Linked DNA regions of Homo sapiens. The protein of the gene in region 1 interacts with the protein of each later gene in a pairwise test. Each region holds a gene or a part of one and is shown on either strand. Other genes may lie near its edges.

Region 1 (7,031 bases):
TGGCTTTGTAATTTAGAAGAGTAAGGTGTAGAGAACAATTTAACTTTTTTCTTACATAATCGTTTCTGTCTGTGCCATATATTGAATAATGTACCCTTTTGTCATTGGTTTGATATTTTTATCATATGCCAAATATTTTGCTGTTGTTTGACATTTTAATTAATATTTGTTTCCTAGGCTTTCTCATCTCTTCTGGTGATTTATTTGTCTATGATACTTCATTGATTTCAAGCCATTTATTTTCCACATTTTAACATATTTAAATTTGTAATGCATCTTAAAATCTGCTGTTGGGGCTGGTGCAGTGGCTCATACCTGTAATCCCAGCGCTGTGGGAGGATTACTTGAGCCCAGGAGTTTGAGACCAGCCTGGGCAACATAGTGAAACCTCGTCTCTTAAAAAAAAAAAAAAAAAAAATTTAAGTCAGCTGTTGCCTTAACGGAAGTTGAGTTCTTTCTGAGAAGCTGTGCATTCTCTTCTGCTGGTCACTGGGGGAGGGGCTTTACCAACTTGCCTCTGCTTAAGCTAATTTCTCTGCTTGGGATTTTTTAGGATGATGCTGGTAGTGTGATTTCAGCCCCCAAAATTTGCAGGGATGGGGTTGTCAGTTCAGATATTGGAGTTTTTGTTCCCTCTTTCCATTGTCAAGGAAGAGGTGCGCAGGCCTCTTTGCCATCCCTTCTGCATGTAGTTGCTTGCTTTTATCCCTCATTGAGACTATAGATGTTTAGTCCCCCACTTTTTGTGAGGGGTTCTCCTTTGAGACTCCCTTTCTGGGCATCTTTTTATGGTACATAACAGTGAAGTGTCACAATCAACAGTGTCTTAGATTTGGTGAAATATGGTGTTTTAATAATTGTAATTTTTTACATAATATCTGGCAGTAGAAGTTCTCAGTATACCATAGTCTTTGCAGTTATCCCGAATGAAGTTCGAAATAATTTAAGTTCCCCTGACGCTCTCTCCCCTAACAAAACAAAGCAAGACAAACAAAACCAAAAGAATAGTAATTCTAGGATTTTGCCATCACCTTATATGGAAAACTCAGAACCTTCTATTTCACATATGATTCGTTCACTATAATTGTTTTATTTACTTCTTCTTACACTTGGCTGTAAAATTTAGGCAAGAATTTAAGTTTCTAATACTATACTAATGTCATAAGATAATCCATTTAAAATGTTAACAATTATTCTATACATAGTTCATTCAAGCTTAGATCAGTTTTGCTGAATGGTTGTTTTATGTTCATGTCCTTTTAGACCTTTTTAGGATTGTTCTTTGAAAAGCCTCAAATTGGCCAGGTGTGGTGGCTTACACCTGTAATCTTAGCACTTTGGAGGCTGAGGCAGGCAGATCGCTTGAGCTCAGGAGTTCGAGACCAGCTTAGCAACATAGACAAGACATTACTTGTCTCTACTAAAAGTAAAAAAAAAAAAATCACTGGGGCATGATGGTGTGCACCTGTAGTCCCAGCAACTTGGGAGGCTGAGGTGGGAGGATTGCTGGAGTTCGGGAGATTGAGGCTGCAGTGAGCTGTGATCGTACCACTGCACTCCAGCCTGGATTATAGAGTGAGACCCTGTCTCAAAAATAAATAATTAAATAAAAAATAAAAAAGCCTCAAATTAACATGGCAGATAACTAACTTTATTTTTTATTAATATTTTAGCTGGTCACGGTGGCTCATGCCTGTAATCCCAGCACTTTGGGAGGCCAAGGCGGATCACAAGGTCAGGAGTTCGAGACCAGCCTGGCCAAATAGTGAAATCTTGTCTCTACTAAAAATACAAAAATTAGCCGGGCGTGGTAGCACACACCTGTAGTCCCAGCTACTTGGGAGGCTGAGGCAGGAGAATCTTTTGAACCTGGGAGACTGAGGGTGCAGTGAGCTGAGATCGTGCCATTGCACTCCTGCCTGGGCGACAGGGCGAGACTCTGTCTCAAAGAAAAAAAATAAAATAAAATATTTTAATTTTTTGAGAAGGGGTCTCACTCTGTCACCCAGCTTGTGTGAGTGCAGTGGCGCAATCTTGGCTCACTGCAACCTCTGACTCCCAGGCTCAAGCGATCCTCCTAACTTAGCATCTCGAGAGGCTGGGACCACAGGTGTGCACCACCACGTCTGGCTAATTTTTTTATTTTTTGGTAGAGACAGGGTTCCCCCAAGTTGCCCAGGCTGGTCTCGAACTTCTGAGCTGAGATGATCCACTTGCCTCGGCCTCCCACAGTGCTGGGATTACAGGCGTGAGCCACAACACTTGGCCATAACTAACTTTAAATTGTGTCTTTTACTCTCTGTACTGGCTTTGCTATGAAGAAATCATGCTGGTTAATCTTACTGAGTGTTTCCTGGGCATTCTTGTCCCTTTGGAAGGCCTGAGGACTTGCTTACAGGCTGTGCTCTTTGGAGGCGGTTTGCAGTGTTTGTCAGTAAAGTTGAGCACTGGATTGTCCATTTTTTTTTTTTTTTTTTGAGATGGAGTCTCACCCTGTCCCCAAGGCTGGAGTGCAGTGGCGTCATCTTGGCTCACTGCAAGCTCCGCCTCCCGTGTTCACACCATTCTCCTGCCTCAGCCTCCAGAGTAGCTGGGATTACAGGCACCCGCCACCATGCCCAGCTAATTTTTTGTATTTTCAGTAGAGATGGGGTTTCACCATGTTAGTCAGGATGGTCTCGATTTCCTGACCTTGTGATCTGCCCACCTCGGCCTCCCAAAGTGCTGAGATTACAGGCGTGAGACACCGTGCCTGGCCGATTGTCTGTTCTTTTACTTCAGAAAAGACAACGATGCATGGTATTTGACTGTAAATTTGTAAAGTTCACTGAGGTTTTTTTTTTTTTTCCTTTTTAAGACTTTCTTGTCTGCACAGAAAGTCCCAGTACAACTTCCATTGCTGAGAAAATCCTCAGAGGACTTTCCCACTTCGCTCCTGTGATGGATGACAGAAGAGTGATTCATTAACAATTGCTCAGCCACAATTCTCGGATATAGGGATTCAAAAGACAGGACACAGAACTAACACAGTGAAAAAAATCAGTACCACATTTGGACAGTATAGGTGAGAAAACATAATTATAAAAATGATGCCATGAAAAATTCCACAGATCAGTTTAGTTGTATAGTTGTCAAAGTTATATGTGATATCAATGAAGAAATATTTGTAGCATGTAAACGGTTATTTCTGTTTCTTAAAAAGTATTGTTAGTGGGCTATTAAACTTGGATTTTTCTTTTTATTAATGCAGTATGTTCTTTTTATTCAAGTATGAACTTGTTGAGAAACTATAGTAATATGATTTTTAAGAGATTTATGTTCTACTTAAAATGTGAATTGTACTTCTGAGCTGCCTTAATGCAAGGTCATTTATATTTGTTAAGAGGAAATAATCAAGATCACTCATATCCCAACTGAATCTGAGGTTTTATAAATCCCTCAAACGATTGCTGAGAGCCTGATTGTGGAAAGAAGTGAGATGCACCTTATTTTCAAGAAGTCCTGGGAAGCGCTCTCCTAGCACGTCCATTTCCAGGAGGAGAAGCAAGCAGATGAGAGGTTTTCCATTTTGTCATCCAAGGTAGCTGTGCACTTGCCTTGTTGCTGAAGTTCCAATAATGTGAAAACCAAAGTAGAGGTTTTTTTCTTCTTCTTTTTGTTTTCTATTAATTTCACTTATACCAAAGTGTTTGAAAGTATGAAATGTGTTGCTTCTGAGTTATATAAGGCTACTTCATGACAAGACTGCTTTGTAATATTTCACTTTGTTTTACTACAAATTCAGATCACTTTGTTTTACTATAAATTCAGATTATCCAAATATTTTCCTAATACTATGTGGGAATGCTGATTTTCTTTTGTTACGTAGTGGAAACATTTTGCATTGTTTACATAGTTCTCATGGAACATGGAAATTTTTGAAAGTGATATATGATACACATTTTTTGTGTATGTATTCTAATTAGTGTGAATAAAGCAGTAACATTAATGCATTTTTTAAGCAGCAAACTTATGTATTTCTCTTGTCTTCCTTAAAAGTGTCCCCATGAACTCAGTGTTTATTCCCTTTTCATTTTGAGTACCTGCTTATATGGTCAGTATGTAACGTTAGCATTGGCTCCTAATGGTAGAATTAGAACAGCAAGATTGTAGAGCTGTAATTGACTCCAGACAACATAGATTTCAGCCACCTCATTCTACAGCTGAGGCCAGGACAATAAATGCCTTTCCCAGACTGGGTAGTGGCAGATCTGGGATGGAATATGGTTTTCTTGATTCCCTTTCAGCCTTCATTTCTCTCTCTCAGGACTACTACTTTTTAATTACTTTTCACTTAATTTCCCAATACTGATGAAATAAAGAAAAATGAGGGTTATTTATATACATTTCAATAAAATCCAATTTGATTTTTCAACTTACATCTGATTTTTGTTTGTGTCATTCAGCCTGTCTTCTGAGTAATGGGCAGAGAAGGACCAGGGTTCGTAGAAGAAGCATGTGGCAGCTGAGTGGCAGCAGTCTTGCCCTTTCATTTTAATACTTGAGTACACAGAAAATAGAATTTTTGAGTGACTCTGCCTGTGGATATATATACTCATACATACATATATATATATACACACACACATATGTATGTATGTATGTATTACTATTCAGTCTCTTAAAAACCAAAAAACAGTAGATCCCCTGAGGGTAGAGTCTTTATGTATGAACATATTGTTCACTGTTGTAACCACCTTGCAGGATTTCAGTCTATAAACTAGGTGAGAATCCAGCTGCTGAGTGAAGCTTGATCTCTGCCTCTTCCTCAGGAGCAGCTCATCCCCTGACAACCTCCCCTCCCAGCCCCTAATCTGGTTTAATGCCCTCCTTTTCCCCAGATAAAGAAAGTCATGTCTGTAGTTATTCCAAAAGTGTTTCATGTGTAGAGTTTGGCACAAAAAGTAAAAAGCGCCAGCATCTGAAGTCAAAGGTGAAAGAGTCATCACAGTACTGATGAAGACACCCAGGCCTCGTCAGCTATGTTAACGTGCTGTATGACAAGAGGAACCTGCTTTCTAAGTCTGCTGGACACGCGTGCTTCTTGAATCCAACCAGACAAGCATGTTTTCTCAAAACCACAGTATAAGACAAGGAAACTGCACAGATTCGAGTGATTTTTGAGGTAAGTATGTTATTGGAAAGGTGTGATCTATATAGAACCCTGTACATGAAAAGGAGGAGATGCCGCTATCTTGGCAGGGATGATCATGTATTTGAAATAGTAACTCACAGCATTTGGTCTCATGATAAGAGTACTGAAGATTATCCCAGAAAACCTAGGATGATTGGTATTTATAGTACCATTGTTTCAGGTTTTTATGACTTGAGGCATCTAACTATCTTAATGCTGTACTTTAGTGTTTACCAAGCAGCTTTCTGGTGGAAACTTGAACTGCAGACACTGAGTGTTTTGGTTTTCCTCCAAGTTATAGTTCTCATTGTAACTTAATAAGTTGGCATTCCAGCTTAGTTTGAGTCAGTTTCCCAGGGCTGGGTCCTCAGAGGAGAGTGGATAGAATTCAGTTCCTCTATGAGCTGGGGTGCTGACATTGTGTTCCTGCTGTTGACTGTCCCTGCGGTGCACGGGACAGACTGTCAGCTAACCTGTCTTCATGACATTTCTATAATACTCCTCAGGGGGTTAACCCCATCTCTACTAAAAATAAAAAAAATTAGCTGGGCATGGTGGCATGTGCCTGTAGTCCCAGCTACAGGAGGCTGAGGCAGGAGAATTGCTTGAACCCAGGAGGTGGAGGTTGCAGTGAGTTGGGATCTCGCCACTGCACTCTAGCCTGAGTGACAGAGCGAGACTCTGTCTCAAAAAAAAATAAATGAATAAAAAATAAAACAGCAACTCTTGCAGATTTCCCGAATGTATTGGTCCCAGAGAACACTGAAAATAATGTCATGTTGTTAACACCAGTGGGAGTTTGGGAAATAATTCCAGCTCTTTAATACTTCTTTCAGCTTCAGATTAAGTGAAATGAGTTTCACATATTTCAATATATGAAATTTTATGATGACACATAAAACAGGCCAGGGGTTATTGAGGACACATCTGTGAGATAGTGGGCAATGCTACATATTCGTTAGTGGATGTGCTGCAGTTCAGGTTCATGGACAGGTGGGACTGGTGTGGTTGGGATAACCCACCATGTTTGTCTTTCATTTCTTGTATAAAGAGTGGTTTTTAAAAGACCTTACTATGGAATTTTCACAAATACTCAAAAGTATGGAGAATGGTACAGTGAATCCCCATGTGCCCTTTTCCCAGCTTCAGGGGTGGTGTCAGTGATAATGATTTGGCTCTGTGTCCCCACCCAAATCTCATCTTGAATTGTAATCCCCACGTGTCAGGGGAGGGACCTGGTGGGAGGTGATTGGATCATGGGGGCTGTTTCCCCATGCTGTTCTTGTGATAGTGAGGGAGTTCTCACAAGATCTGATGGTTTTAAAAGTGGCAGTTTTCCCTGCACTCTCTCCTGCCACCTTGTGAAGAAGGTGCCTGCTTCCCCTTTGCCTTTCGTCACAATTGTAAGTTCCCCGAGGTTCGTCATGATTGTAAGTTTCCTGAGGTCTCCCCAACCATGCAGAACTGTGAGTCACTTGAACCCCTTTTGTTTATAAATTGCCCAGTCTCAGGTAGTACCTTGATAGCAGTGTGAAAATGGACTAATACAGTCAGGGACCTAAAAGACAGGTAAAGAGATGTGGCCAGGTGAAGACGGAAAAAGGACAGTGCATTCCAGACCTGTGGAAAGACGCGAGGTTGGAAAGAACATCACAACTGGGGCGACTGAAGAAATTATGTTGTTAAGCACGAAATGCAGAGAGAGAGCTATGTGAATGTGTTGAGTGTGATTTTCATTAAACAATTTTTAAAGAAAGCATTTCTAGTGGTGCTTTTATTTTTGCAGCCGCTTAATAGCATTCACTCTTGTTGAAAGGAGCACAGTTTGGAATATTGGAAAGTGCTTGCTACCAGCTAA
Region 2 (7,031 bases), on another chromosome or scaffold:
CGCCTCATCACCATGACCATTCCCTCATGACCAGGACCATCATCATCATCATGATAATCATCATCATCATGTTCACCGCCTCATCACCATGACCATTCCCTCATGATCATCAGCATTATTTCACCATCTTCATCACCACCACCATCTTACCATTATCACCATGACCCTCACCACAATGATCATCACCCTATCATGATCTCCGTCGCCATCACCATCACGATCATCACCATCATCACCACCCTCATAATCATCTCCATCATCAACACCGCCTGGCATGGCACCTGGGCTATTCACATATCAAAATCAGTCTTGTGATTCTGTCTTTCTAGGATTCCCCAAAAATACCATTCACACCTTGTTTTTAATTAGATACTTTGGGGGTTTTTTTTGTTTTTGTTTTTTTTGGTTGGGGGTGTCTTAAGCCCCTCAAATCCTGGAGAGGGTCACACGTCTCCCCTCAGGGGTCTTTCTTCTTCCTCTGGGGTAGTGGTGGTTGGTGCAGGCATGCTGGTGGTCCAGGCCATCTCTGCCAGTCTCTTCACAGCCTCACCCAGCTGCCCCAGACCCCGGGCAGCTTCTACCAGCTGCGTCAGCCCCAGCAGCAGGGCTTGGCGCTCCTGCCGCTCCTGTTCCACGACCTGGGTCAGTCTCTGCAGCTGACCACCCACATCCCTCACAGCAGCCACCAGCTCCACCAGGGCAGGTGGCTCACAAGCCATGACCCTTACAGGTGGTGTTGGGGCCACACATGGACCATGGGGGCCTGGGCTCTGACCAGGAGTTGGCCCTAGGGTGAGGGGGTCAAGGGGAGGATGATCCAAGGGGTGGGCTGTGGGGGAAAGGAGGGGGTCAGGGGACACAGTAAGGTCAGAGGCTGAGTGTGGGGTATGGGTGGGTGGAGGGGTTAGGTTGGGGCTCTGGCTTCTGGGTGGCTTGAAGTCCTCAGTGGACAGTGGGTCCATGCTTGTGGCTGTGGAGGACCTGGAGGGGCTGGACTCCAAGGCTGGAGAGGGCTCTAAGGTGGGTATCTGGGATGTGGAGGTGTGAGGGGCAGGTGCTGTGAAGGTCAACTGGGGGTGCAGACTGGGCTTGACTGTTGGTGCTAGAGTGGGAGAGGAGAGTTCTGTCCCCAAGGAGGTTGGAAGGGACACAGTAGTGATGACAGGGGTTGAGGAAGGGTCAGGAGTTGTGGGGTGAGGGGTCGTGGTGGGATCAGGAGTAGTGGTGGGGTAAGGGGTCGTGGTGGGGTCAGGAGTCATGGTGGGGTGAGGGGTTGTGGTGGGGTGAGGGGTTGTGGTGGGGTGAGGAGTCGTGGTGGGGTGAGGGGTCGTGGTGGGATGAGGCATCGTGGTGGGCTGCATGGTGGTGAAGGGTTGAGGGGTTGTGGTGGGGTCAGGAATCATGGTGGAGTGAGTGATGGTGGTGGGATGAGGGGTCGTGGTGGGGTGAGGGGTTGTGGAGTGAGGGGTTGTGGTGGGCTGCATGGTGGTGAAGGGTTGAGGGGTTGTGGTGGGGTCAGGAATCATGGTGGAGTGAGTGATGGTGGTGAAGGGTTGAGGGGTTGTGGTGGGGTCAGGAATCATGGTGGAGTGAGTGATGGTGGTGGGGTGAGGGGTCGTGGTGGGGTGAGGGGTGGTAGGGAAGTGAGGGGTCACAGTAGGGTTAAGGGTTGTGATGGGGTCAGGGGCCATGGTGGGATCAGGGGTAGTAGTGGGGTGAGGGCTTGGGGAGGGGTCTGGGGATCTAGAATATTCTGAGACTGTACTGGAGTATGGAGTTGTGTCCAAATCTGGGGTTGTGTCAGATTCTGGGACCTGCTCTGAGGTAGGGGAAAGGCTGGTCACCTCCGACGGTGTAGAAGGGTCAGAGGTCAGCTCTTTGGGCAAGGTGGGTAAGGGCGTGGGTGAGGGCTCCGGGGTCAACGCGGGAACCACACTGGAGTCAGGGGTGGACAAAGCAAAGTCAGGGCTTGTCAAGATGAGGTCGGGGTTCGTCCGGGAGGCCGGGTCTGGGGTGGGTGGTGAAGTGTCCGGAGCGTCAGAGGTCGCCTCGGACGTCAAGGCTGAGTGGGGAGTGAGCTCTCGACTGGAGTCAGAGGTCAGCGCTGGGCCTGGGGGTCCCGGAGAGGCGGAGGGACCTGGGGACGGGGTTGGGGGCGCTGTCCTGGTCGCAGCGGGCCGCGGTGGCCGGCGCTCGGGCCACGGTTTCCTCGGGGAACCTGGAGGAGGAGGAAAGACAGACGGACGGTCTGAGGTCAACCGGCTCCGCCCACCACGCGTCCCGCCCCGCCCCTCGAGGAGCCGACCAATGGAAAGGCACAGAGCCTCGAGACGTCATGGGTCACCGGCAGACTTCACCCGGCCCTAGGGCCCCTCCTCCCTACGTCCTCCGATGGCTCCAGGCGCCACCTGGCGTCCTCCACTGCGGGAGGATGCGGGGATGCTCCGGACTCGGGGATGCCGAGGGGCACGCGGGTTGCGGGAGCGGGTGCAGGAGGGTGAGGTGAGGGAGGGATGCGTGGGGTGCTGGGGTGCGGGAGGGGGCGGGAGTGCTCAGAAGCGTGCAGCATACGGGAGGATTCTGAGCCAGCGGGGGACTGGGAGATGTGCGGAGCCAGGGGAGGCAGGGAGACCAAAGAGGGCTCCGAAGGGTAATGTTAGTAATCAAAATAAATACTTTTATGGATTTTTTTATTTTTTAAGATAAAGTCTGGCTGTGTCGCCCAAGCTGGAGTGCGGTGGCAAGATCATAGCTCACTGTAACCTCGAACTCCTGGGCTCAAGCGTTTTTATGCAATATTTTTAAACAATCAAAATTAATCCAAAAGATCCACAGTTAACCAAAGTTAACATTTTAACCAAAGACGGGATCCAACAGGGCCAGGATTAGGGGGAGCCCAGCGAGGCGGATAGGATCCTGTCTTCAGTGACTTTTTTTTTTTTTTTGAGATGGAGTCTCGCTCTGTCGCCCAGGCTGGAGTGCAGTGGCGTGATCTCGGCTCACTGCAAGCTCCGCCTCCCGGGTTCACACCATTCTCCTGCCTCAGCCTCCCGAGTAGCTGGGACTACAGGCGCCCGCCACCACACCAGGCTAATTTTTTGTATTTTTAGTAGAGACGGGGTTTCACCGTGTTGGCCAGGATGGTCTCGATCTCCTGACCTCGTGATCCGCCCGCCTGGGCCTCCCAAAGTGCTGGGATTACAGGCATGAGCCATCGCGCCCGGCCTTCAGTTACATTTTTGATACCGAGTTCATCATGGGTTTTTTTTTTTTTGGCATTAATTTTCATTTTAAAAAATACTGTATTATGATATTATGTATCTTGATTTTGGCGTTTTGGGCACCCCCTTAAATTTTGGGCCTGAGTAGCAGGAGGAGCCTGACCCTCTTCTGGGGCTGTCTTCCAAGTGAGTGCCAATTTTATCCCCATTTTACAGAAGGGGGAAATTAGGGCAAGAGGGCAGGTGACTCGCCCAAGGTCACACAGACATAGTTTGCAAGTTGCAGGGCTAAGACTTGAACCCAAGTTGTTTGCACATAGAGTCTAGGCAATGAAATCTCACATCTGCAGTGATGGGAATGCGCTGTGATCTACCGTGCCAATACAGTAGCCACTGGCCACATGTGGCTACCAAGCCCTTGAAATGCGGCCAGTGTGAATGAGAAACTAAATGTTTCATTTTCTTTTATTTTATTTTATTTTTTTTTTTGAGACGGAGTCTCACTCTGTCGCCCAGGTTAGAGTGCAGTGGCACGATCTCGCCTCACTGCCAGCTTTGCCTCCCAGGTTCATGCCATTCTCCTGCCTCAGCCTCCCGAGAAGCTGGGACTACAGGCGCTCGCCACCATGTCCTGCTAATTTTTTGTATTTTTAGTAGAGATGGGGTTTCACTGTGTTAGCCAGGACGGTCGCGATCTCCTGACCTCGTGATCCGCCCGCTTCGGCCTCCCAAAGTGCTGGGATTACAGGCGTGGCCACTGCGCCCGGCAAATGTTTCATTTTCAAAGTGTTAATTCATTTAACTTTTTTTTTTTTTTTTTTTTTGAGACGGAGTTTCACTCCTGTTGCCCAGGCTGGAGTGCAGTGGCGCGATCTTGGCTCGCTGCAATCTCCGCCTCCTGGGTTCAAGTGATTCTCCTGTGTCCACTTCCTGAGTAGCTGGGATGACAGGCATGTGCCACCATGCCCAGCTAATTTTTTTGTATTTTTAGTAGAGATGGGGTTTCACTATGTTGTTCAGGCTAGTCTTGAACCCCCGACCTCAGGTGATCTGCCTGCCTCAGCCTCCCAAAGTGCTGGAATTTCAGGCGTGAGCCACCATGCCCGGTGCTCTTAGCTACCGTATTGAACCACACAGATCTACAGATTTCCACTTGTTCCTGCAGGGCAGGGTCTTTCAGGCGCATCCCTTCCCCACCTTGTCCTTTGTTTGCAGGATTGGAGAAGCGGTTAAGTAAAGGGCTTGTGCTCAAGGCAGGCTGTCCGAGTTTAAACCCCAGCTGCATGGCTTCCTAGCGGGGTGACCACGGCCAAGTTACTTCACTGCTTGAATCTCAGTTTCTTCCTCAGCTATAGACTGTGGATGATCCGCGTATCTCCCTTGCAGAGCTGTCAAAAGGACTCAGGGAGACCATGGTTGTGCAAAGCACTTAGTGTAATGTCTAGCATGGAATAAGCACTCTAATAATTATTGATGTCAGAGTCACTGATGTCTGTGCCTCAATTTCACTCATCTGAGAAATGGGCAAAATTATAGATCTACGTCATGGAGCTCATGCAGATTTCCTTCCCTCCTTTCTCCCTTCCTCCCTTCTTCTCTCTCTCTCTTTTTTTTTTTTTTTTAACAGAGTCTTTCTCTGTTGCCCAGGCTGGAGTGCAGTGGTGCGATCTCAGCTCACTGCAACCTCCGCCTCCCAGGTTCAAGCAGTTCTCCTGCCTCAGCCTCCCGAGTAGCTGGGATTACAGGCGCCTGCCACCACACCTATTATTATTATTATTATTATTATTATTATTATTATTATTATTATTATTATTTTGAGACAGAGTCTCACTCTGTTGCCCAGGCTGGAGTGCAGTGGCGCAATCTCGGCTCACTGCAAGCTCTGCCTCCTGGGTTCACGCCATTCTCCTGCCTCAGCCTCCCGAGTAGCTGGGACCATAGGTGCCTACCACCACGCCTGGCTAATTTTTTGTATTGTTAGTAAAGACAGGGTTTCACCGTGTTAGCCAGGATGGTCTCGATCTCCTGACCTCGTGATCTGCCCGCCTCAGCCTCCCAAAGTGCTGGGATTACAGGCGTCAGCCATTGCAGCCAGCCTAATCATGCTTAACTTTACTAAATACTGCTGGATTGTCTTTATCAAACAGCTCTGTCCAGTGGGGTTGCCTGTCTTCCCACATCCTCACTCACACTGGATAATACCCACCTTTCTCATTCTCCTCTGTACTTGCCATTGTTTTAATTTGTATTTTCTGGTTCCTGATGAGCGTGGGCATTTCTAAATACACTCAGCCATTTGGGCTTCCTTTTCTGGGAATCACCTGTTTTCCTCTTTCTCATCTAGGGTTTCCTATCATTTTCCTATTTGTCACAGTGACTTATGCCATCTAGGCTGGGGTTTCTCAACCTCGGTACTATTGTAATTTAGGGCTGGGTGGTTCTTTGTTATGGGGAATGTCGTGTGCATTGTGAATGTTTATCACCACCCCGGCCTCTACCGATCAGGTGCCAATGGGTAGCCTCTCACTTCCTGCCATGACAATCCAAAATATCTTCAGATATTGCCAAATTCCCCTTGGGGGCAAAATCGACCCTAGTTGATGACCAGCGGTCTAGATAATAACCTCTTGGTTCTGTTTTTGTCTTTATTTGAGACAAGGTCTCGCTCTGGCACCCAGGCTGGAATACAGTGGCACAACCACAGCCTCGAGCACCCAGGCTCAAGGGATCCTCCTGCCTCAGCCTCCCAAGCAGCTGGGACCACACGTGCGTACCACCACACCCAGCTAATGTTCATATCTTGGGGGGCTCACCATGTTGCCCAGGCTGCTCTCAAACTCCCGAGCTTAAGCAATCCTCCCAACTCGGCCTCCCAAAGTGCTGTGATTACAGGCATGAGCCACCATGCTCAGCCGATAACCCTTTGTTTTAGGGTATATTTCTGCTGAGTCTTTCTGGGGTAAGGGTTCCAGTGGGGAGTCTGGAATCTGTCTCTTTACCCCAGGACAAATACCGTCCCAGTCTCCTCACCCCAGCCACGTGTCTCACCTGTGTCTCCATGGACTCTCAGAGTTGGAGGACTGCCTGGGCTCCTGGTGGTGCCAGCCCCAAGAGTTGGTCCTAGTTTGCCTGCGGTAGGGGTCCCCTCAGCCAGGCCCCTTCCTGATGGTGTGTCCCACGTCCAGGGAAGCTTGTAACCATCTTTGCTGCCTAGAGAGATATGGGGAAGAGGATTGAGTCTTCCAACTTCCCTTTGAGTTTGACTCCCCGTCTCTCTCCTCCTGGGCCAGCCCCAGTTCAGGCATCATCCCGTCTCAACTGCACCGCCACTGCAGCCCTACCTGACCTCGTGGAGACCTTCTCCATTCAGCTGGGATGTTTTTGGCTACCAACGACGGAAACGGTCACTAAACTAGCACATAAAATGAAGGGCATTTGGGCCTGGCGCCGTGGCTCAAGCTTGTAATCCCAGCACTTTGGGAGGCTGAGGCAGGCAGATCACTTGAGGTCAGGAGCTCAAGACCAGCCTGGCCAACATGGAGAAACCCCATCTGCACTAAATATACAAAAAATTAGCTGGGTATGGTGGCACACGCCTATAATCCCAGCTACTCGGGAGGCTGAGACAGGAGAATCACTTGAACCTGGGAGACAGAGGTTGCAGTGAGCCAAGACTGTGCCACTGCACTCCTGCCTGGGTGACAGAGCGAGACACCGCCTCAAAAAAAAAAAAAAAGGAATTTATTATTTTAATTCCTCAAGGCTCCTGCCCTAGCGGGGGAAAAACCATAACATCTTTATTAATTCACT

Evidence for each region. The genes of interacting proteins can lie anywhere in the genome.
Region 2: the proteins of SEC23IP (region 1) and SSC5D interact in binary tests that used the Homo sapiens proteins (3 or more experiments, as listed by UniProt).

Annotation. Positions count from the first base shown.
Region 1 is NC_000010.11:119,937,729-119,944,759, forward strand, and holds the end of SEC23IP (SEC23-interacting protein), read left to right. Parts: intron 1-2,857; 3' UTR 2,858-6,929; downstream 6,930-7,031. UniProt on the Homo sapiens protein: Plays a role in the organization of endoplasmic reticulum exit sites. Specifically binds to phosphatidylinositol 3-phosphate (PI(3)P), phosphatidylinositol 4-phosphate (PI(4)P) and phosphatidylinositol 5-phosphate (PI(5)P).
Region 2 is NC_000019.10:55,512,411-55,519,441, reverse strand, and holds the end of SSC5D (soluble scavenger receptor cysteine-rich domain-containing protein SSC5D isoform 1 precursor), read right to left. Parts: intron 6,432-7,031; coding exon 6,270-6,431; intron 2,219-6,269; coding exon 444-2,218; 3' UTR 343-443; downstream 1-342.